Regions from separate parts of the Homo sapiens genome. Here region 2 is linked to region 1. The links come from fine-mapping of genetic effects on gene expression. A gene starts in region 1. The other region holds a variant in brackets. All regions are shown on one strand. Distances are between the middles of the regions. Region 1 holds the start of ZCCHC14 (zinc finger CCHC-type containing 14). Region 2 overlaps ZCCHC14 (zinc finger CCHC-type containing 14).

Region 1 (11,650 bases):
TCACAGACAAGTTCATAGACCAGGCGGTTCCCAGCTGCCCAGGAGAACAAGTGTTAAAGATGGAGACAAAACAGTGCTTTTAGGTCACAGCTATTCCTTTAACCATCAGTGACAACAGCTGCTCCAGAGAGAGTCCGTTCTTATGGAATGCTAGATGACTCTTGGCTGCAATAGGCCCAGAGTTTAGGGCTAAAGGAGAAACCAAAAGAAACCACTTATACTTTGCCTGATAACCAGAGGATGAACTATCCCATGTTTCACCTCTGAACTGCAATGATTTTCAACAGCTTACGAAAAGCAACGAAGCAAAAGCTGTTGCTGATCTTTGGACAGACATTTTCAGCAGGTTTATTCACGGTATTTGTGTCTATCTGAAGTTTCCACAGTGCTTATCCTCAGGCACTCACAATGCAAGCCACAGAGAGTTCCAGAACTGTTCCACAGAACCTACCCCTAAAGAAGACCACCACCCCACCACACTCCTGCACCAAAAACTTTAAAAACGTTATTTTTTTTAGTACCCCCTTAAAAAAATCAGCCCCATGAAGCAGTTCATTATCCATACCCTGAGGATGCTGAAACACAAACGGCAGGGCCCTCACAGCTGCAGCTCAGGCGGGGCCCCGCCCCTGCCCACCAGGCCCTGCTCCCCCATACCTGTCGCTGACCAAATGCACCAGCCCGGAGGCTCTGTACTGACAGCACAGAGTTCCCTGCCACCTCCAGCTGCAGCTCCCCAGGCTGGCTGAGGCCACACCTACACAGCTCTGCACACGGCACCTAGCAATCCACCAGGTGGAACAGGAGCCCTCAGGACAGCCCCGCACCGACACGTGCGCCAGCGGTCCACAGAGGATGCGCTAAGTGTTAGGCACAGTGCACGGGGGTGAAGACAAAGAGCCTATTAACCATGAAGACAAAAGTCTACAAAAGCAAGCATGTGAAGCAACTCCAAGGTCCACCCGCTGAAGAATGCGTGAGCACAGCTCGGCCTCTTCACACAGGGGAACGCCACTCGGCAGCGAAAGAGGAGGAAGTGCTGACACACCCACAGCATGGACGGGCCCTGACATCACGACACCGAGTGAAGGAAGCCAGTCACAAAGGGCCACACGGTGTGTGGTCCCCTTATATGCAACGTCCAAAAAAGACACCCATAGAGACAAAAAGGGGTGGTCAAGGGTTGGGGGGAGGGGGAATGGGGAGCGACTCCTAATAGGCACTGGGTTTCTTTTTGGGGAGATGGAAACGTTCAGTGGCAGTGGTCGTGCTTGCACAGCTATATGACTATACTAAAAACCACTGACTTCACTGTAAAAGGGTGAAGTATATATAGTATATGAATTCTCTTTCAATAAAGCTGTTATTTTTTAAACAAGAATAAGCATGTGCACATACCACAGCATATTAATTATCACTGACACAAAGAAAAAGCCGCAAAGGATTTATTTTAACTATTTCCAAAACTATGGTCTTTTATTTACGTAAAATAGGCATTGGAAAGTCTAAGCCAACTATCCCCCACAGTTGGCACCCTGGAACAGGCGACTGCAGGAGCAGCAAGCAGCAGCATTACCGGCCACTAGGCAGAGTACAACTAATTCAGCCTACCATCAGTGTGGCTACTGGAAGTATTTTTCTTTCTGAAAGTAAAATACAGGTATGTCTACTTTGTACTCCCCCCACTTTTACACCTCTAGAAGTCCTCAGAATAATAAGAATTTTTAAATAAAAACACAGGATTTGGACAAGGAATTGCAAATAATGACTATTTCGGAAAATACAGTTAAAATAAATTTAAAAAAAATTTTTTGAGACACAGTCTCACTCTGTCACCCAGGCTGGAATGCAGTGGCATGATCATACCTCACCTACAGCCTCTACCTCCTGGGATCAGGTAATCATCCCACCTCGGCCTCCCAAGTAGCAGGGACTACAAGTGTGTGCCACCACTCCTGGCTAATTTTTGTATTTTTTGTAGAGACAGGGTTTTGCTGTGTTGCCCAGGCTGGTGTTGAACTCCTGGGCTCAAGCGATCTGCCCACCTTGACCTCCCAAACTTCCGGGACTACAGGCGTAAGCCACCTTGCCAGGCCAAGAAATAAAAATTCAAATTGGATAAAGAATTTAAAAAGCCATTGACATTTGTATCTCTAAAAGAAAAATACAAAGTCTCTAAGCTCAAAGAGTTCAAAATAAAATACAACAGCTTACAAAAGAATGCAGACAGCTTTAACGGGGCTGCTTTTTCAGGAATACACCAAACGTTAGATTTAGAAACTAAGAAAGCAAAATACTTAAATGCTAGATTTCATCTGAGTTGCATGCTCCAAGCAATAAAGGGTTCATCAACGTCAGCCTTAGCTTTGAAGCAGCAACAGAAACGAAAGTTAAATGAATGGGGCTGAAATTAGCTTAGCAGTGACACTAGGGATGTAGGGAAAACTAGAAACCACGGTTGTTTTGAAATACGGAAATGACAGCCCAAGGTTACTCCTTATAATAATCCTCTCATTAAGGGTCACAGAATCTTCCAGTTTTCCAAAGATGAAACAAAAAAATTGTCAGCTCCAAGTAACTACTCAAAAACCAATTTAGAACACATAAACGCTCATAGCCAAGATGTAAATAATTCAATCTATAAAACATGCCTTGCTTTAAGTTAGCAAACCTCTATAAAAAGGAATGTTAAAAGCCGGAGAGGCCATAGAGGAGAAAGCAGCATTTACTGCACCTCTGCTGGAAGCTCATGTATGTTACCTATGTAATCCTCAACACAAGCCTGTGAGGTAGGTTACATCCCCTCCACTGCAACAGGGACAACACTGAGGGGCAGAAGGATCCTGGCCAAGGTTGCACGGCTGGTAAATTCAGCGCCCATGGCCTTGGGACTGGGGTGTAGCGGGGGAGGTGCAGGGGTGAGCAGAGAGGAATAGATTAGCCCCTTCATCTCATCAAAGGGATTTCTGCTTCACAGAAAGGCTCTCCTATAAAAGACATTTTTGTTCTAGATTTAGCTCACTGCCCAATCAAAATAATAATCACCACTGTCTGCATAAAGTGAGGCACCCGTGCTCACACATTAAGAATCCCCTTAAAGAGATGACGTTACTGTAGCAACAGCCATAGAAATTATTAGTGGGTGGAATCTACACAAAGGAGTAACAGCACATGAAACTGACCATAAATGACTGAGATTCCATGAATAGGTGACAATTTGCTGGCATGTCAAGGCTTACATGGATTACTATAAACAACTACATTTCCTAGGACCCTCTGCACAGCACACAGCCTGAAATACAGGGTGGGAGCCGAACTTAAAAAGAAAACTATAGTCTTGGAGGTAAATGTCACACACACAAAAATCAATTTAAAAAAACCGATGTATGTACTACAACCACTTCTTACAGGAAGACATTAAAAAAGAAAAGCCACAATCTACGATTGAAAGACAGCTTTAAAAACACACACATAAAAAACCTAGCAAACCAGACGGTGTTCTCAGCCACTCATAAAAGCAAAGTCTTATCAAAGTTTTAACTTCAAAGAGCTTAAAGACACTGCAAAGAGACACTGAGCAAGACTTGGTCCCGACTGCAACCTATTCCCTTCCAAAAAATAATCAGTTTGTAATCTAAATACACATCACACCAGGTCAAAGTAATCTCTTCCGGCAGCAAAATTTTGGCACTGGATTGCAGGGGGCTGTTCAAAATAGCTGGAGCCCCAGACACTTTGCGTTTTCAGTTCTGAAACACTTAGACAAAAGTTCACATCGCTAAGTGGATGGCCAGGACGCCCTTCCGGTTCAATTTGGAGACCGGAGATCTTTAACCTAACCTAACATTCCTTAAGGCATCGGTGCCCTCCCACTCAAAGTCAGCCTGGGTTTTGTTTCTAAGGGTCGCCAATAAATAGGTTTCACGGGCATTTAAGGCTCTGGGAGTCTTTTTCTGTCTGTTACAGGTAGCCCGGCTCTTAAAAACGATCACACACAACGTTCACAAGCATGTGCACATTCATACACACGTGTGCACATATACATGCCCACATGCGACACACGCGTACATCATACAGCATGCACGTGTCCATAAATGAGCTCACACGGACAGCCATGTCCCGCGCCCAGGCCCCCAGCGACACAGGCCCCAAGCAGGGCCTCCACCTGTGTGGAGGGAGCGGCTCAGACGGGGAAGCCCCAGCGCCTTGCAATGTTCACCTCACCGGCGGCTTCTGGCGTGGCCACGGCTCCTTCCTTTTCTGGTAATAAATACCAGATTTGGGGAAACCAAGGCGCCGCAATGTGTGTTATCTGTCACCCAAGGGCCCCATTAAGGGGACAAAGGCCTTATCGCGTTTGCAGCCGGCTAAGTGAAAGGAGGGCACCTGGGACTGTGAGCTCTGACCGCGGACGTCTCCCGCACCGCTCCCGCGGATCCTCGGACCCAGGGCCCCTGCAGCCGCTCCTGCCCAAGGGGCGCGAGGCGGAGGTGTGGAGGCTTTGGGGCACGCAGAGGGGACTGAGGGTGTGGGCTCAGGGCCGCGGTGCGGTCTTGGGGCTTAAAGTGCAGACTTAGGGTGAGGAGTGCGGGCTTAGGATGGGGGCTTGGGATGTACGGCGGAGGCTTGGGATGTACGGCGGAGGCTTGGGATGTACGGTGGAGGCTTGGAGAGGTGGGGCACACATTTGGGGTGCGACATAGAGGCTTAGGATGGGGCTTGGGATACGGGCTGGGGGCTCGTGGTGCAGGTTGGAGACCTGGGTGGGAGCTCTCAGTGCAGGCTGGAGGCGTGGGTCGGGGGGTCGCGGTGCAGGCTGGAGGCTTGGAGTGCAGAGTTGGGGATGCAGACTTGGGGTACAGGGCAGAGCTCGGGGCGGGCACGCACCTTGTGGCAGGCTGGGCAAGTGGGCAGCGCGCCGCCCGGCCCGGGCGCGCCCTTGCCGCCGTGGCCCCCGCCGCCGTTCAGGCTGCTCTGGATCTGCGTGAGCTCCTGGCGCAGCACCTGCTTCTGGTGGAAGCTGAAGGCCGGGTGGTTGGAGGCCATGGTGAACAGCAGCAGGAACTCATCGCCCGTGCGGCCCTCGTTAAGCTGCAGCCCGTAGTTGTGGATGATGGAGTCGATGTGCGTGAGCGTGCGGTAGAGCACGCCCGCCGCCTCGCGCTGCTCCGAGCCCAGCAGCGCCAGCGACACCAGCAGCTTGCTGCGCACCACCTCGTCCGTCAGGTTGGTGAGGCTGCCCAGGTCGGCCGGGTTGTTGGCCTTGATCTCCGAGTCGCGCAGCGAGTGGTAGTCCTTGCGGGCCAGGTCCTCCAGGCACGAGCCGAGGAAGCGAAGCTCGAGCGGGATGCACAGGTCCAGCAGGCCGCACAGGAACTCCACGCGCTGCGGCGACGGCAGCTCCGAGAACCAGCGGTACACGCCGTCCCTCTGCAGCGGGCAGCGCTTCTCCACCATGCTGCCGCCCGCGCCGCGCCGCGACCCGGGGCCGGGGACCGCGCGGGGGCGGCCGGGGGGCGCCGGGGGCCGCGGCCGGGGCGCGCCGGGACCGGGGACGCGCGGGCCGGGGCCGGGTCCGGGCGAGGGCGCGCGGGCGCCGCGGGCCGGGCGGGCGCCGGGGCGGGGGCGGGGACCGGGGCCGGGCAAGGCTCCCGTCAGGGGCCGGCGGGCGGGCGCGCGCGGGGCGCCGGGGGGGCCCGGGGCGGCCGGGGCGGCCGGGGGCGGCGAGCGGCCTCGGGCCCCCCGCTCACGGGGAGGCGCCTTCCCCGCGCCCGTGCCCAGCGGCGGCCGGTGCGCGGCGGCGGCGGCGGCTGCTCCTCGTCGTCGTCGTCGTCGTCGCCCGGGAGGCGGCCGCCCCCATCTCCCCCCGCGCCGCAGGGTCTGTCACTGCGGGCCGCCCCCCGACGGAGCCGCCCCGGCCATGCCGTCGCCGCCGCCCGCGCCTCCGCCCAGGCCGGCCGTTACCCCGGGCCGCGGGCGCGGCGTCGCCGCCTGGGGAGCGCTGGGGGCCGCGGCCGCGAAACGGACGCTGGAGGGGGAGGGACGCGCGGCGGGAGGCGCGGAGGGATCCGGCCGGGACTTGCCGGCCTTGCTGCTCCCGCGCGGCGGACGGATCCGGGCCCGAGCGCGGCGGCGGCGGCGACGGCGACGGCGACGGCGACGGCGACGGCGGAGGAGGCGCCGGCCGAGGAGCGGAGGGATCGTCGCGCTCGCGGCTGACGGGCGGCCGGGATCAGCAGAAGTGGGCGGGGTGGCCGCCTCTCGCGACAGCCCGGGCCTGCCGGGCCCGTCCCCCCCCCACTGATTGGCTCAGGCGGCCCGTTCTCGGCCCGTGATTGTGCCGGGTCCCCAATCCCATTCGCCCGTTCCGCGGCCACGCCTCCCTGGGGGCTGTCGATCATGTTGGGGCCACCGCCTCCCGTCCCTCGGCGGCCGTCAAGACGCGATTGGTCCGCGGAATCGGAGAGGCGGAAAACCCGGGCTGGATTTCTGGTTGCTTTTGTTCCCGCAAATTTGCGTGGAGCATTGTTTTTCGGCGAAAACGGGGCGTTCGGCCTTCCTGCTTTATTTTTGAGCGGTGTAAGAGGGAGGTAGTGGGTATCTTCGAGAAACGGCCGCCGCGGGGTCCGGAGCCCCGGGTTCCAATCCCGGGTCGGCCACTGCAAAGCTGTGTGACCTTGGGCGAGTCACTTGGCCTCTCTGAGCCCCAGGCGCCTCCCCGGGAAAAAGAGGGTAATAATAACCGCCCCCGAGGTTTGTGCGAAGGTGTTGAGCTCACAGAGGGCCGGCACCGGCACTTTTGAGGCGGCTGACTTGCCCTGGGGGTGTGATGGGAGGTGCAAGCTTTCTCCAAAAGCCTCGTCCAAATGGAGCCTTTAAATCCGCCTTCTTTCCGCGGCTACTTCACCAGCTCGCCAAACGCAGAAAATGCAAACACAGGGGAGGGGGCAAGGGAGCTGACCTGGCTGGAAGTAAACAGAAACGCCACCCTCCCCTGGCACTTGCATTGGCACCGGATTGCAGGTGGGGGAAGGGCCGGTGCACCCAACCACCTTTAAATCCCACCACTTACACACAGGCATAGAAGTAGAGCCGCGGGGGCTGGACGCTCATTCCTCCCCTGCCCTTCCCCTAGAGCGCTGCTTTGAATGTCTGTTGATCTAGAACGGGGTCTGTTCATTCATGGGTTCCAGGTCCCAAGCGCCCGGGGGCAGCTGAGAGCAAAGCTGGCGCCCTCCCTACCCTGTGGAGCTTACACTCTGGTTCTGGGCAGTGCACACTAGAGATTGGTTAAATCAATGAATGAACTTTTTCAGGATATGGTCCAAGGTGCTGAAAACTTCCTAACAAAACTCTTCAGCCGAATCTGGCACGCCTGTGGTTCCAGCTACTGGGTAGACCGAGGCAGGAGGATCGCTTGAGGCCAAGAGTTTAAGACCAACCTGGGCAACATGGTGAGACCCCCCCTCCCCGCCCCAGTCGCTCCAAAACAAACAAACCCCACATTCTCCAGTCTTAGGTCTTCGAGGATGAACAGAGATTGCAGAAAGGCATGGTTGGGAACAAAAAAAATTGCTCTCCACTCCCCCAGCCCCCTCCACACCTTGGGCACATTTCCCTGGAGCTGCCCCAGTGTTCTTTGTCAGTGTAGGAAGAAGCAAAAATCTAAATGGAGTCAGGATGGCCTCCCACATGGGCACAAGGGCAAGGCTGGGGACAGTTGGGTCTCCTCATCTTATTTCCCAGGTCTAGGCTGATTTCTATTAATAATTAAATTAATCGTCGTTGTCCTGGACCTCACTTCTTAATGTGATTCCAGGGAACTGGCCACATTCCAAAATTCATAATCTAAGGTAGTGAAAGAACGTGAACATCAAGACAGTTTGGCTGGGCTCAGAGGCTCACATCTGTAATCCCAGTACTTTGGGAGGCCGAGGGTAGATCCCTTGAGCCCAGGAGTTCGAGACCAGCCTGGGCAACATGGCGAAATCCCATCTCTACAAAAACTACAAAAATTAGCCAGATGTGGTGGCATGTGCCTGTAGTCCCAGGTACTTGGGAGACTGCAGTGGAAGGATTGCCCGAGCCCGGGAAAGGGAGGTTGCGGTGAATGGGGATCCCGCCACTGCACTCCAGCCTGGGTGACAGCGTAAGACTCTGTCTCAAAAACAAAACAAAACAAAAGATTCATTTCTTATTGATAAAGCAAGCTCCTTGGAGAAAGATCTTGGAACCTCATTAGTGCTGGGGGTGGGGGTGGGGCTTCTTCAATCCAGCCGAGCTGGCTGTGAAACCCCCAGGCTTTGGTACCAAGTGAGCTCCAGTCCCAGCTGTGGCTGACTGTGTGAACTTGGCTATGCATTCAGAGGCCTCTGAGCCTCAGTTTCCTCATCTGTAGAAGACAGCCAGGAACCCGTCATCCTGGCTAGCAGTGGAAGTCAAAGGTGCTCATGGAAAGCCCTTGCTGGCTGGAACAAGGGAGGCCTGAGCTGTGGAAGTCCTTGGATCAAGGTCCTCCCCACTTCCCGCTGCCTTTTTGGTCCTTCTTGCGTGCTCTTTGTGATTTAATGGCTTAGTAGGTTGAATCATGTCCCCCCAAAGTTTATCTCTACCCCAAATCTCAGAATGTGACCTTATTTGGGAAAAGAGTCTTTGCAGATATAATTAAGGTAAGAGTCAAGATAAAATCACACTGAATTAAGGTGAGCCCTACATGCAATGAGACTGTCCTTACAAGATACAGAAAAGAACACATAGAGACTTCGGGGGAAAGGAGACTATGTGCAAGAATGGCAGAGATTGGAGCCAAGGAGTGCCTGGGCCTACCAGAGGCTGCAAGAGACAGGGAGGACCCTCCCCTAGAGCCTCCAGAGGGAACAGAGCCATGCCCACACCTTGACTTTGGACTCCTGGCCTCCAGAACTGTGAGAGGGTAAGTTGCTATTGTTTTCAACCCCCAACCCCCACCCTCCCCCACCCCCCGACCCTCTCCCACCCCCATCTCCCACCCCTCCCCCATCCCCATCTCCCACCCCCCCCCCACCCCTCCCCTACCCCCATCTCCCCACCCCTCCCTCACTCACGCGTGTTGTGGTTACTTGTAGGGCAGCCAGGGAAACCGAAACAATGTCATATCCCCCCAGACATCGGTGTGGCTCAGCTCAATCCAGTTCACAACAAATATGAAATCCCTGCCCTACAGGACCAGGCCTCAGGAAGGGCTTGGGGGCCTCAGAGGCAAATGAGACCAGGTCCATCGACCCTACAGAACTGACAACCTGGACTCCCCACTCTGAAGCAGGCAGGCTGCCTGAAGGAGGGGGCCTCCCTCATAAGGAGAGGGCAGACGCTGACCTCCCGGGCCCTCCAGCATTCTCTGGGTCCTGGCCCCGAGATTCTGGTTTTCCACACAGGGCACCTACTGTCTCCCGCTTCCCTGACTCTGCCCGTGCACAAGGTAACCCCAGCTGCAAGCGTGCCAGGAGCTTTTCTCCACCTCTGCCTCGACATCTGCCGCCTCTCCTCCTCTGGAGAGGGAGGCAGCTGAAGGACAGCAGCCCCACGCCTTGCTGGAGCGGCTGAGATCGCTGGGAGGAGGTTGGGAGAGGACTCAGGGGCTCAGGCTAGATCAGGAGGGTGGGCCCTGCCTCCTTGTGAGGGGGCCCAGCACCAGGGGGAGCCCACAGTCTAGGGTGCTGTTCAGCCAAATTGGCTACCACTGGGTGTGAGGTCTGTGGTTGTGCAGGGTTGAAGGGCTGGGTGTCATTTGCCTCTGAGGCCCCCAAGCCCTTCCTGAGGCCTGGTCCTATAGGGCAAGGATAGACTATTTATTGTAAACTGGGTTGCGCTGAGAGCCACACTCATGTTTAGGGGGAAATGCCATTTTATTGGTTTCCTGTGACTGCCCTACAAATAACCACAAAGAGGCGAGGGGAGAAGTGGGGGCTGTCCCTTCCACAGAGCTGCAATCAAGCACAAATGACTCTAATAGTATCAATTGTGAGAGAGAGAGAGAGATTTGGAGTTCACCACAAATTCCCCAAACAAACAATTTTACAAGAAGGACATGACCCGCCTGGCGTTACTGCTTAGTTCTGAATGAGTGATACCGACTGCAGCAGGTGACCAGGCCAAGCCCAGAAATGGGCCACAGGGACCCCAAGCACATGCTCTTCCCCCAGACTGCCACCATCTTGCTTTTCCTTCAGACCTAGGACCCCACGAGAGGAGGGATCTGGAGGCCAAGCCAGGAGCAGGACAACACCAACAGAGGCCTCAGAAGAAGACTCAGAGTGGGACAGGGGCTCCTTAAGTGATTGGGGCTGGAAGTGCGCAGAGAAGCCCGGCGCGGCAGGGAATTGTCTCTCCCTGGGGTGCTGCCAAGGTGTGTGTGGTCTCTAGCTGCAACGTGCGCTTCCTTCCCTTGGCCTGACTCCTGCTTTCCTGTCATTGAGAAGGTTTGGGACCTGACACCCTGAGCATGGAGGCCATAAATCCAGTGGATCCCTAAATTTCCTGATGGGGTCCTGGCTCCAGGCCTCGGTGCCTGACAGCCTCGTGTAATTGACAAAACCCCATGGAGCTGTTTCTGATACTGAATTCCCATCACGCAGATACTGAATGGTCAAGGGCTTCAGCCCGGGCCACACAGTTAGTTCATGTTGGAATTGGATTCTGCCCTAAGTCAATTGCCCATAGACTCTGCCCCTCCCAGGAGGAAACCACAAATGTGACATATTGTTTATTTGCTATTTTTGCAAAGGTGTCTGTTGCTTGCCAGCTTTTCCAGCCATGACTGCAGACAAAGTCCACCTAGAGTCATAAATGGGCAATCAGCCCCGAACAACGTCCAGACCCGGTTTCTGCACGGCGAGGCGTTTTTGTCCATGGCAGACTTGCTTACCCGGGTGTCTTTGGTGTGGGGCTAGATGCAGCATTTCCCCAGTGGGAATGGCCCGGGGTCTTATTTAAAGTGGAGGGTCCTAGGCCTGGCCCCACGTATGGAGTCAGGGTCCCTAGGGGTAGGACCTTGGAATCCGCATTTTTTTTTTTTTGAGACAGGGTCTCCCTCTGTCACCCAGGCTGGAATGCAGTGGCGCGATCTCAGCTCTCTGAAACCTCTACCTCCTGGTTCAAGCGATTCTCCTGCCTCGGCCTCCCGAGTAGCTGGTATTACAGGCACGCACCACCATGCCTGGCTAATTTTCTATATTTTTAGTAGAGATGGGGTTTCATCATGTTAGCCAGGCTGGTCTCCAACTCCTGACCTCAAGCCATACACTGGCCTCCGCCTCCCTAAGTGCTGGGATGACAGGTATGAGCCACCGTGCCTGGCCAGGAATTTGCATGTTTGCTAGTAACCCTGCTCATCTCAGTGCACACCAAAGTTTGAAACCACTGTTGGGGTGTGGAGCTCTTGCTTCCAGACTTCCAGGGCCTATGGATTGAACAACGGCAGCCACAGTAGTAATTAGAATTTTCAGTCTCAACCACAAGCCTGCCACGCAACAAGGGTTTCCTCCCGTTTTACAGATGAGGGACCTGAGGCTTCATAAGGCTGTTATTGACCTGAGGTCGCACAGCTGATGGCTCCTGGGTTCTTAGCGTTAAGTTTTGCGGCCTTATTTCTGTTGTATATTTGTTTCTCGTA
Region 2 (11,650 bases), 31 kb before region 1:
CAAATGATTCTCTGTGCCCTGGGGTTCAAATCAGAATCCGTGGCTGAGGAATGCTACAGGCAACCAGCTTAAAAATAGTAAGTACAGATGGTCCCTGACTGAAGATGGCTGGAGTTGACGATTTTTCGACTTTACAACAGTGCAAAAGCAACATGCATTCAGAAGGAACTGCTTCGAGCGCCCATACAACCATTCTGTTTTCCACTTTCAGTACAGACTCAATAGATTACATGAGTCAAAACTTCACTATGAAGTGGGCTGTGTGTTAGATAATTTTGCCCACCTGCAGGCTAATGCAAGCGTTCTGAGCACATTTAAGGTAGGCTAGGCTAAGCCATGATGTGTAGCAGGTGTGGTGTATTCACTGCATTGCAACTTGTGGTATTTTCAACTTGCAGCCCCCACTGTAAGTTGAAAAGCATCTATGCGGTAAAATGGAACTGTCTAATCTAGGTGAAGGGTACTCACTGTGAAACTTTTTCAACTTTACCGTGTGTTTCAAAGTCCTCATAATAAAATGTTAGATAAAGAACCCATAAGGAAATTGAAACTATCAAGGCTTCTCGATTTCGGCTACACACTGGAATCCCAGCACAACCCAGGAAAGGCCACAGACTGTGGGCATTTTAGAATTTAGATTTTAGGGCTGGGCGCAGTGGCTCACGCCTGTAATCCCAGCACTTTGGGAAGCCGAGGCGGGCGGATCACGAGGTCAGGAGATCGAGACTATCCTGGCTAACACGGTGAAACCACGTCTCTACTAAAAATATAAAAAAATAGCCGGGCGTGGTGGCCGGCACCTGTAGCCCCAGCAGCTACTCCGGAGGCTGAGGCAAGAGAATGGCGTGAACCCGGGAGGCGGAGGTTGCAGTGAGCTGTGATTGCGCCACTGCACTCCAGCCTGGGCGACAGAGCAAGACTCTGTCTCCAAAAAAAAAAAAAAAAAAAAAAAAAAAAAATTTAGATTTTAGGTGAATTCTTGTCTTCTTAGAATTCATGTTCTAATTGGTTGGGATAGATTTTGTTTTGGAGTTTGGTCTTTAGCTCTCTTCAGCTGTAACAACGCTGCATGGCAAACACAAACCCCAGGGGCACACAATGGAAAACATTCATTTAAAATAATTTTTAAAAACTCAGTTTTAATCGATAATATGGTAAATACCTATAGATGTGACCCACATAAACATGGATTCTTTGGAATCTCTAATTTTTAAGAGTGCAAAGGGGTCCTAAGACCAAAAAGATTGAAAACTACTGGTATATAAACAAGTTTAATGAAAGTATACCTCCTTCACTGTCTCACAAAAAGAAAACTTTAAAAAATTATAATTCCTCAAAGTCCAAAGTTACAGAACTTACTTTGTTGAGAGTATTAGTAAAAGCAGTTTCCATCTCAGCTTGTACACTACAACAGCTTCCCTAAGTTTCAGTAAATCATCAACACAGGGACTGGAGCGCTGGAGAGTGCACCGCAGTTCTCAGCCACACCCACGAGGGGCAGGGGGCTCAGAAGCCACACACAGTGACCTGGAGCTGCAGCCAGGCACTGGGTACGGGGTTTACTAGGCTACAATCTCTACTCCTGAACTGGAAAATGTTCACAATAAATAGGTCAGGAAAAAAAGGAATGATTTCACTGGTTAATGTGTACTCATAGGCACTGCCCACACAACGGTGTGTTTTCCACTTTCAGTACAGTCCCACCTTTCTTTTCCTCTGCTATTTTCTTCAGCCAGCCACAGGGTTAAGAGCATTAGCTCTGGCTTTGAATCCCAGCTGACCTCAGGAAAATTTCTTATCTGTGACTCAGTTCTCCCATCTGTAAAATGGGGTAAAAATCACCACATGGGATCAGTTAGAATTAAATAGGTATAATCAGCCCTCAAAGGGCTGTTATGAAGATGATGTAAGTCAGTATCTGTCATGTAAGTTAGTCATGTGCTTGGACTGTTGTTCAAGTATATAAAAGCTTCCCTAACCTTTTACATACTAAGAAATTTTTTAAATGTCTGACCACTCTATAAATTAAACTGTATCACTGTAAGACTTCTGAAGAAGCAGAGAAAAACCAAAACAGAAGTAGGATACAGAAAAGACAGAGAGAAAACTTTATAGTAATAAAACTATACAACTTACTGTGACTTTAGACTTTCTGAAGGGCAATAACCTGCACCCAACAGAATATTAAAAGGATTCACATGAAAAGTGACTAAGAAAACCAAGTTAACTCACTTGCCAATTTCCGGACAACAGAAACCGCGACCCTCTATGACTAATGAATGGAGAATGCTGCAGGTAATTAAGAGCGTCTGCTCGCTGCGGTATTTTAAGCACTGTGGGGTTTGAGAATGACCACTCGTGGCCTCAGAGCCGACCCGCCAGCCTACGCAGGCTTTGCCACAGCTCACATGAGAGTCAGCTCACCCTCTGTCTCTCTGGGCACCAAAGCATGCAGACGAGACAATGACAGATACTCGCTACTTTGAAATTATACAGAAAAAAAAAAAAAAGAATGGGGATGTCAATAATTACATCCTGAAGAAAAAGCACTGAAGGGTCCATCCCTTAAGATTCACAGGGTGTGCAGGGCACAGGTTCCTAGGCTGGACTGTCTGGGGACAAAGGAAGCGGCACTCCACGGCAGGCCTTTCTCCTGGGATGGCATGGGGGAAGGAAGAGGAGGAGCCCTTTCTACAGCGGAGGGACTCCCTGCAATTCCGACGCCAAGTGTCCGCTCTGGGGTTGGAGCATCGCGGCATCACCAGGATGAGGGTGCGGTGAAGACGCTCAACCAAGAGCCACAGACCCTCCCAAGAGCAGTGGATAAGACAAAGACTGTTGCGACCTCAGGGGGTTGCTACGAGGGTCAAGTGGGGACAGGAGCCCTCGCAGGGCTGCAGTAAGGAGTTACTGTCTCCATACCATACCGTGCTCATTACATCAACAGAGGCTGCAGCTGCTGGGGAAATGGGTCCTTCCTGAGTTAGGATCTAAATCAGAGACAGGTGGCTCTCGATGGCGTTGTCAGAACGGGACTTTAGAAACAAAGCAGTTATGAAGCCTGTGGAAGGCACGAAGCGCCGTGCCAGGGACGGGGACGGTGCGGGGCGGTTGGGGGAGAGCGCACAGGGTGAGCGAGTGCGGCTCTGGGCCTCACGTGGCGCACCTGCTAGGAGACAAACATCTTTGTAAATAACACAGGGAGAATAGAGGCCAGCAGATGCGGACACAGCCGGCCTCGGTACCTCTATGCCATGGGGGCTCAGGACCAGTGACCCCACTGGAAAGCGCCACCCTGGTCTCTGTCTCCCCACTACTGACGATTCTGCAAACCACACAAGCATTTATTTTACCGGGTATGCATTATCTGGTCCATCTAGTCCTACAAACCACCTTACTCTCCCCTCCCCAAAGCCTCCACTACTATGGCATGGTTACCAACTTTGCAGCTGATCATAACACGGCAGAGGCTGGCGTGCAGAGCCACAGGGGCTCAGGCCGCGCCTCACTACCCACGCTGAGCTGTCCACGTGTACGTTAAAGAAAAATAAAGACTCAGGTAGCCAGTCACATTAGCCATGTTTCAAGTGCGCGGAAGGCACGTGTGGCTGCTGACAACCAACTCAGTGCAGGTGGAAAACACTCCGTCACCACAGAGAGCGCTTCAGGACAACACCGCTCTAGTGGTTAAGGATGATTTCCATGTGGGGTGGGGAGGAGGGTGTAAAACTTATTCCTCCCACCCTTTTTTTTTTTTTGAGATGTAATCTCACTCTGTCACCCAGACTGGAGGGCAGTGGCACGATCTCGGCTCACTGCAACCTCCACCTCCTGGGTTCAAGCAATTCTCCTGCCTCAGCCTCTCAAGTAGCTGGGATTACAAGCGTGCACCACCAGGCCTGGCTAATTTTTTTTTTTTTTTCAGACGGAGTTTTGCTCTTGTTGCCCAGGCTGGAGTGCAATGGCGTGATCTTGGCTTACCACGACCTCCGCCTCCTGGGTTCAAGCGATTCTCCTGCCTCAGCCTCCCGAGTAGCTGGGATTACAGATGCCCGCCACCACGCCCAGCTAATTTTGTATTTTTAGTAGAGATGGGGTTTCTTCATGTTGGTCAGGCTGGTCTCAAACTCCCAACCTCAGGTGATCCGCCCACCTCAGTCTCCCAAAGTGCTGGGATTACAGGTGTGAGAAACCACGTCTGGACTTCTCCTTAAAAAACATCAATAATTGAGATTTTTACAGCCAAAGCATATTCATGTATTGCTTATAGAATTTAGAAAAATACACATAAGATTGGCATTTATGAAAGATCTGAAAGCATTTAACAATGCCCTCACGGGGATCTGGGGTGTGCCCATCCTCCGTCCGTCAGACGTCCTCCTGAAACCCGTGCGTGCACTCACCTTTGCTGTGTTTTCCTAAGGGCCTCTTGGGCAGCGACTCCTCCGTGGAATGTGCTGATGTGTGCAGGGCATTCTCCAAACTATTACTGACACTGCTGACAGGGGCCTCAGTTCTTGGAGTGA[T/C]CTGAGGGAACAGAAACAGAATCATCTTATTTTCTCCCACGGAGTTAATAGGGGACAATTTTATTTGTTAATTAAGTCTTTCATAATTACCTTGGTTTCCATTTTTCTACAAAACATGTATTATTATAATAATAAGCCTTCCCCAAGAAAGATGAAAATTTCACCTACTACTCTCCACTGAAAGTGCAAAAGAGCTCAGATAACTTGAGTCAAACACGGGCGCTTACGTCTTGTGGCTGGGGTTCATCGGGTGCACAGAAACTATGGTAGCCAAAGAGGCCGGGCACGGTGGCTCACGCCTGTTATCCCAGCACTTTAGGAGGCTGACGCAGGTGGATCTCTTGAGCCCAGGAGTTCAAGACCAGCCTGGCCAACATGGTGAAACCCCATCTCTATTAAAAATACAAAAATTAGCCAGGCGTGATGGCAAGTGCCTATAGTCCCAGCTACTCGGGAGGCTGACGTGGGAGGATCACTTGAACCCAGGAGGCAGGGGCTGCAGTGAGCCAAGATGGTGACACTACACTCCAGCCTGGGCAACAGAGTAAGGCTCTATCTCCAAGAAAAAAAAAAGGAACTATGTTAGCCAAGGTGGCATGAATTATATATTTTTATTTGAGGCAAACTTTTATTTTCATATTTCTTCAAATCAAATAGCTCCCTATAAAACGAATTACACAGCAGGACTTAACATTCTCCTTCTATAAATCTTAAATCATAAAATGCTTTAAAAACAACAGCAAAGAACAGAATACAACTCGGTCTATTTGGGGTACAGTTTGAAAAAGCATATCCTAAAATTACATCCCAATTCCATTTCTAGGAATTCACCATACCAAGTACTCACACGTGAGAAAATGACCTGATGGGGTGTGCCCACTGCAGGAGTGTCTGTGACAGGGAAAGCGGGGCACACCCTCAGTCCCCATCGACAGAGACCTGCTAAGCACAGACAGTGTACCTGCAGGTGACGGCCGCCCCCAAGCTGTGGGTGGGGGAGGCCCTCCTGACCACCAGTGCTCCCAACACACAACAAGCGCAGAAACAAGCCACGGGCTAGCCAGGCTCGTCCCACCCCTCCTGCTTCCTGGGTTCAGTGATGGTGTGAATGTGGAATAAGCCGGAAGGGGCCCAGAGGGGCGAGAGGAGGGGGGTAGCAATAACCTTCATTCCCTCCCCATCAGTATTTTAAAATTTCACAGCCAAAACACATTTATAACTTATAGGATTTAGAAGAATAAAAATGGCCAATGCTGTAACTTCTTTACAGTCTCAATGTATTTCAAAATTTCGGAGGATATGAGAGGCGTAAGATTTTAAAGTTCATCAAAAGAGCTGATAAGCAATGCTGCATTCACAGTATGGGAAAGTACATGGCACAAGCAGCCTGGAAAATGGCCTGACCTCTCCAGCCTCCACTTGTTCTTTCATCTCATACCTGGACGGTAGGTGGCAGTTGACCAAAACATCCCCTAAGTTCACTCACAAGCACAGATCCCAGCACTCGCTCTGCAGAGGGCTGGCCAGGTAGGCGTGGCCTCGACCTCAGACAGGATGAAAGTGGAGGCGGAAGCTGGAGTTGGGAGGAAAGGGTGGAGACTGCTGCCACTCCGGCAGGACCAGCACCTGCTGTATTCCACAGACAGCAAGCCACAGGGGCCACACCCAAGTCCATAGCGAGATCCTCTGATCCCAGCTCTGTCAATGCCCCTGCCCCCCAGCAAGAAGCCCTCCTGGGCTGTTCATGCAGGGAGAGGGACTAACAGATCCCACGCGGCTCAACAGATGCCTTCCAAGAAAAGCAACTTGTCACAGGGCTACATAATTGGGAAGTTTATGTAACTCGAGAAAATAAGGCCGGGCGCAGCAGCTCATGGCTATAATCCCAGCACTTTGGGAGGCTGAGGCAGGAGGACTGCTTGAAACTATGAGTTTGTTACTGGCCTGGGTAACAGCGAGACCCTGTCTCTATTTAAATTTCTAAAAAAGTAAAAAAAAAAAAAAAAGTCCTAGCCATGCAGCAACTCCTCCAGAAAGTCAATTCTTTGGATAACTTAATAACATGTTATCAAGAAAATAAAATTTTTTGAATTTCTTATATTTGTAATTTAAATTGGGTGATTTCCTTCCGATTTAACAAAGTCTCTTTCATTATTCTATGGTTAGAGAACCCAGAAATGAACTCCTTTCCCACTAAACAAGATAATAGAACCGATACAAGTACGATACAAATCTTACACAAGGAGATTTTTAGTTCCAAACAGTACATATTACTTTGCAAGACAACTCAGGAGGTTAACACATTAACTGTACAAGAAACACAGCCAAGGCCGGGTGCAGTGGCTCACGCCTGTAATCCCAGCACTTTGGGAGGCCGAGGCAGGTGGATCACAAGGTCGGGAGATCAAGACCATCCTGGCTAACACGGTGAAACCCCGTCTCTACTAAAAATACAAAAAATTAGCCAGGCATGGTGGCGGGTGCTTGTAGTCCCAGCTACTCGGGAGGCTGAGGCAGGAGAATGGTGTGAACCCGGAAGGTGGAGCTTGCAGTGAGCCGAGATCGCGCCCCAGCACTCCAGCCTGGGCGACAGAGACTCTATCTCACAAAAAAAAAAAAAAGAAAAAAGAAAAAAGAAAAAAAACAAACACGGCCGAGGCCAGGCTTAGTGGCTCACGCCAGTAATCCCAGCACTTTGGGAGGCCGAGGCAGGCAGATCACCTGAGGTCAGGAGTTTGAGACCAGCCTGACCAACATGGTGAAACCCGTCTCTACTAAAAATACGAAATTAGCCAGGCATGGTGGCGCACGCCTCTAATCTCAGCTACTGGGGAGGCTGAAGCAGGAGAATCGCTTGAACCCCGGAGTTGGAGGTTGTAGGGAGCCGAGATTGCGCCATTGCACTCCAGCCTGGGCAACGAGAGTGAAACTCTGTCTCAAAGAAAAAGAAAAAAAGAAAAAAGAAACACAGCTAGGTGCAGTGATTCACACCTGTAACTCCAGCACTTTGGGAGGCCAAAGCAGGAGGATCACTTGAGGCCACGAGTTCAAGGTCAGCCTAGGCAACATATTGAGACCCCCATCTCTACAAAAACACAAAAATTAGCTGGGTGTCGTGGCCTGTGCCTGCAGTCCCAACTACTTGGGAGGCTAAGGTGGGAGCATCGCTTGAGCCCAGGAGTTTGAAGCTGCAGTGAGGTATGATCATATCAGTGCACTCCAGCCTGGGCGATAGCGAGACCCTGTCTCAAGAAAACAAAAGAAATATAACCACAGCAGAGCCCATTCGATTTGGCCTGATGCATGAACCTCCACATTCTCTTAGCTACTTTGGTACATATTCTAAGTCCTGGTTCTAAGAAGAGAAAGTGAGCTGCCTTTTCTCTTTTTTAAGAGACGGAGTCTCAGCTGGGCACGGTGGCTCACGTCTGTAATCCCAGCACTCTGGGAGGCCGAGGCGGACAGATCACCTGAGGTCAGGAGTTCGAGACCAGCCTGGCCAACATGGTGAATGAAACCTCGTCTCTACTAAAAATACAAAAACTTGCCAGGTGTGGTGGCGGGCACCTGTAATCCCAGCTACTCGGGAGGCTGAGGCAGGGGGATCGCTTCAACGCGGGAGGTGGAGGTTGCAGTGAGCTGAGATTACACCATATTGCACTCCATCCCGGGTGACAGAGCAAGACTCCGTCTCAGGAGAAAAAAAAACAAACAGAGTCTCTTCTGTCACTCAGGCTGGAATGCAGTGGCACAATCATAACTCACCGCAGCCTCGACCTCCTGGGCTCAAGTGATCCTTCCACCTGAGCCTCCTGAGTAACTGGGACCACAGGTGCACACCAGCACGCACAGCTGAGAGTGAGCTGCCTTGACAACCAGCATCAGCAGTTCCAACTTTGCTGGTAGTGGCAAACCTTCCTGCCCCAAAAAGAAACACGTGTGATCAGTGCGTTCTCGCACACACACACCGCCTGCCCACCCTAAAACACTCCAAAGAGACACAAAGGAAAGCCAGCCTCCCAACTCTCAGCCTGCTAGGGGAGGAAGGGGAGAGGAGGGCTGAGCAGGGGAAAACACAGCCTTGGAGAGAAGGAGAGCAGTACTGATTAGTGCTTCTCGGCCTCGACAGCACACTGGAACACCAAGGCCCTGAGAAAACCACATCCCACACTCCCCACCAAAATCAGAGTTTCTGGAAACGGGGCTTCTTTTGTTTTGTGCCTGAAGCTTCTCTGGTGATTCTAATTTGCAGCTAGGCTAAGAACCAACCACGACCCCAAGTCCAGGTTTTATACTGCACCCATCATCCGGTCCAATCCCGGCAAGGACAAAGAGGAGACCCAGAGAAAACAGGAAGTCTTTTCCCCACGCAGACAGGAAGAGCTAAAGGCTGTAGGTCCGTCTGCCACAACCACAACTGGAAGGGGAAAGCCCGTGAGCCACCCTAGCAAAACACACACTGCATCTGACATCAAGACAGGAAGGAAAACTCTTTAGAATGGCAACTGCTGGAAAAGAAAGACCTGTTTTCCTCCGTATATTTTCCCAAGGAATTTCTTCTTAGTTTTCCACATGTTCACTTTTTCCAACCAAGCCTTTATCGTAACTTTGTTCCTTTGTTTACATTGAAAGCTGTCTTCACTTGTGTTTCCCAGAAATGCTGTTTTGGGGTTATTTTTGGTGAAGTTAGTTTGCTCCACGTGACCTATGTTCCACTCAAGTGCTCTCTGACTCAGGCTCACCCGCAGGACTCGTCATCTGGCCTGATGTGCACGAGAGGGAAGACTGACCGGCTCCAAAGGCTGCCTTCTGCTACTGCTAGGAAGGCAACGATAAGCTGCTCTCTTCCTCTCCACAGCCAGCCTCTTCCCACAACCCACAAAAACCCTCTGCCTGGCCCCTGCAACCTGGCATCCAGTCCTCCCCCAGCTCTTCACTCCATGCACTGCTGCCCTGGGCACAGCAGTCACATCTGCCTGGGGCCTTCGCCCTGGCTGTCCCCTCTGCCTGGAAGCGCCCCTGTGCCTTCCCATCTATACTCAAACGTCCTTCTTAGCAAGACTTCTCGATGCTCAGCAAGGCAGCTGTGTTTCTGGTTTGCTTTGTTCACTGCTGTTCCTTTGCACTTCGAACTGGGCCTGGCATGAAGCAGGCCGTTAATAAGGATCTGTAAAATACATCATGATATCACCAAATTTTAATGAAATTCAGAATCAAACGGAAAGCACTTCTATTTCAAACAAAAACTTCTGCAATCTACATTATGTAACAGACAATCAGATTGTTCCACCACATCTACAAAGCGCTAACCCAGGAATGAAATATGACTCTGAAGCAAGCTACTGGTAGTCACGGGGCACACCCGCCCCTGGGGCTCTTCCAGGAAAGCTGACTGAGGTTCCACAGTGGCCACACATCTAGGGGCACCTGGACTTGGGCAGCCCGCCTCTGGCTCTTATGCAATCACCCTTCTTACTGTTACAGTTTAAAGAGAGGAGGCCTCTGCTTCCAAACTTTAATGTGCAAAATGCCTCCGGATCTGGCTGAAACGCAGGTTTGATTCATGAGGTCCGGGGTGGGCCTGAGAATCTTGCATTTCTAACCAGCTCCCACATGATAATGCTGCTGCATGAATATTTCAAGGTAAATCTTCACCATGATCAAAACAGTCAAAGGCTCAACAGCCTCCTCTTATTTTTTTATTAAAAAAAAATAAACAGAGCCAGGGTCTCACCATGTTACCCAGGCTGATCTCAAACTCCTGGGCTCAAGCCATCCTCCCGCCTTAGCTGGGATTACAGGCGTGAGCCACCGAGCCCGGTCTCCGCAACGTCCCTTTAGATGGGATGGAAAAGGGAATCCCCGCACTGCGCAATTAGACCAGAGGGAATCAAAGGCCCTTCCAGGCAAGGGTGAGGAGCTACGCCTGCAGAAGAGCTGACGCTGGCTGCAGGTTGTGACCCCCGCTAACTACCCCCCGCCTCAGGTATTTACGCTTTTTTTTAAAAAAAGGTTTGTCCTTAGTTCATGCCGCCTGACAGAAAAAAACCCAGCACCACACAGGCTACTTTACAGCTCTGTGCTTACAACCCACTTTAATGTTCACGGACCTGACCATAACTTTTAGAAGAGAATTAATTTCTAAAAATCTATTTCCTGAAAGCTCTTCCAAAGACATCCAAGTGGGACGTGCTGACGCAGTCAGATGGAAGCACAGCCCCCCAACACTGACGGCAGCCTCGGTCTGCAGAAGACTCGCTGCACCCCACTGGTGGGCATTTGAAAACTGCTCAGAAAAACGGCAGTGAGCTTTTAGAGCAGGGTTTTAACCTTTTCTTTGTGCCAGCGACCTCTCTGGCAGTTCGATGACACCTACTGAGCCCTTCTAAGAAACATATTTTAAATGCATAAAATACACAGGACTGCAAACAAAGCCAATTATATTGAAAACCGTCATCTAAGTATTAGAAGACAAATGGGCTCCTCGAACAGAGTCTGTGGGTCTCAGCTCACTTCACAGGAGCGCTGAGCATGAAGGAGACTTGAAGACGCTTTCTACGACTGTGCAATCAAAGTATCTGTGACTGCATCTGTGACCAAGTCACAGGTACTGTTCGTATGACTGTGGATTCCTGCCTGCTTCCATAAAGGCAGGGAATGCTCAATTCCCAGTTAGAGGCTGGAGAAAGTGAAGTTGTGATGGCTTCCACTCTCCATGGCTAGGAGCCCCTACTGGGACAGTCACATCTAACCGTGCCCACCAGAGGGGCAGCCTGCCACTGCCCTCCTCACCTTGTTTCTTTACAAATACGGACCTGAACAGTATTCACATCAGCATGCCACATAAAAACAAGCCCTGGAAAAGCCTCACAGTCACTTTGGAGGTCACGTGTTTTTCATGAAAAAAAAAAATTGTTTTTTTTTTTTTTTTTACTAAAGAGACAGGGTCCCGCTATGTTGCCCCATCTGACCTCTAACTCCTGGCCTCAAAAGTGGTCCTCCACCAGATCAGACCTGTTGATAGATGAAAACTGTCTGCTTTCTCCTCTGGCGGGAGAAGACTATTCTTCCTTTTAAAAGGAAACTCGAATGAGGACTGCAAGCCTCTCGTTTTACCGGACACT

The links. PIP is the estimated chance that this variant, and not a neighbour inherited with it, causes the effect.
Region 2: its variant is fine-mapped to the expression of ZCCHC14 in whole blood (INTERVAL, PIP 0.98).

The regions. Positions count from the first base shown.
Region 1 is chr16:87,486,782-87,498,431 of GRCh38, forward strand. It overlaps ZCCHC14 (zinc finger CCHC-type containing 14), which reads right to left and starts at 6,243. Exons shown (of 13, transcript NM_015144.3): 1 at 4,888-6,243. The coding sequence starts at 5,457. It overlaps ZCCHC14-DT (ZCCHC14 divergent transcript), which reads left to right and starts at 7,406. Exons shown (of 4, transcript NR_110943.1): 1 at 7,406-7,454. RefSeq lists a silencer at 6,182-6,361.
Region 2 is chr16:87,455,605-87,467,254 of GRCh38, forward strand. ZCCHC14 (zinc finger CCHC-type containing 14) reads right to left here. Exons shown (of 13, transcript NM_015144.3): 2 at 4,404-4,527. It also overlaps the pseudogene NR3C1P1. Among named protein-coding and RNA genes, the nearest start is that of ZCCHC14, 32 kb to the right of the region's middle. RefSeq lists an enhancer at 1,569-2,768. The variant T/C (reference allele first, on the strand shown) is at 4,527.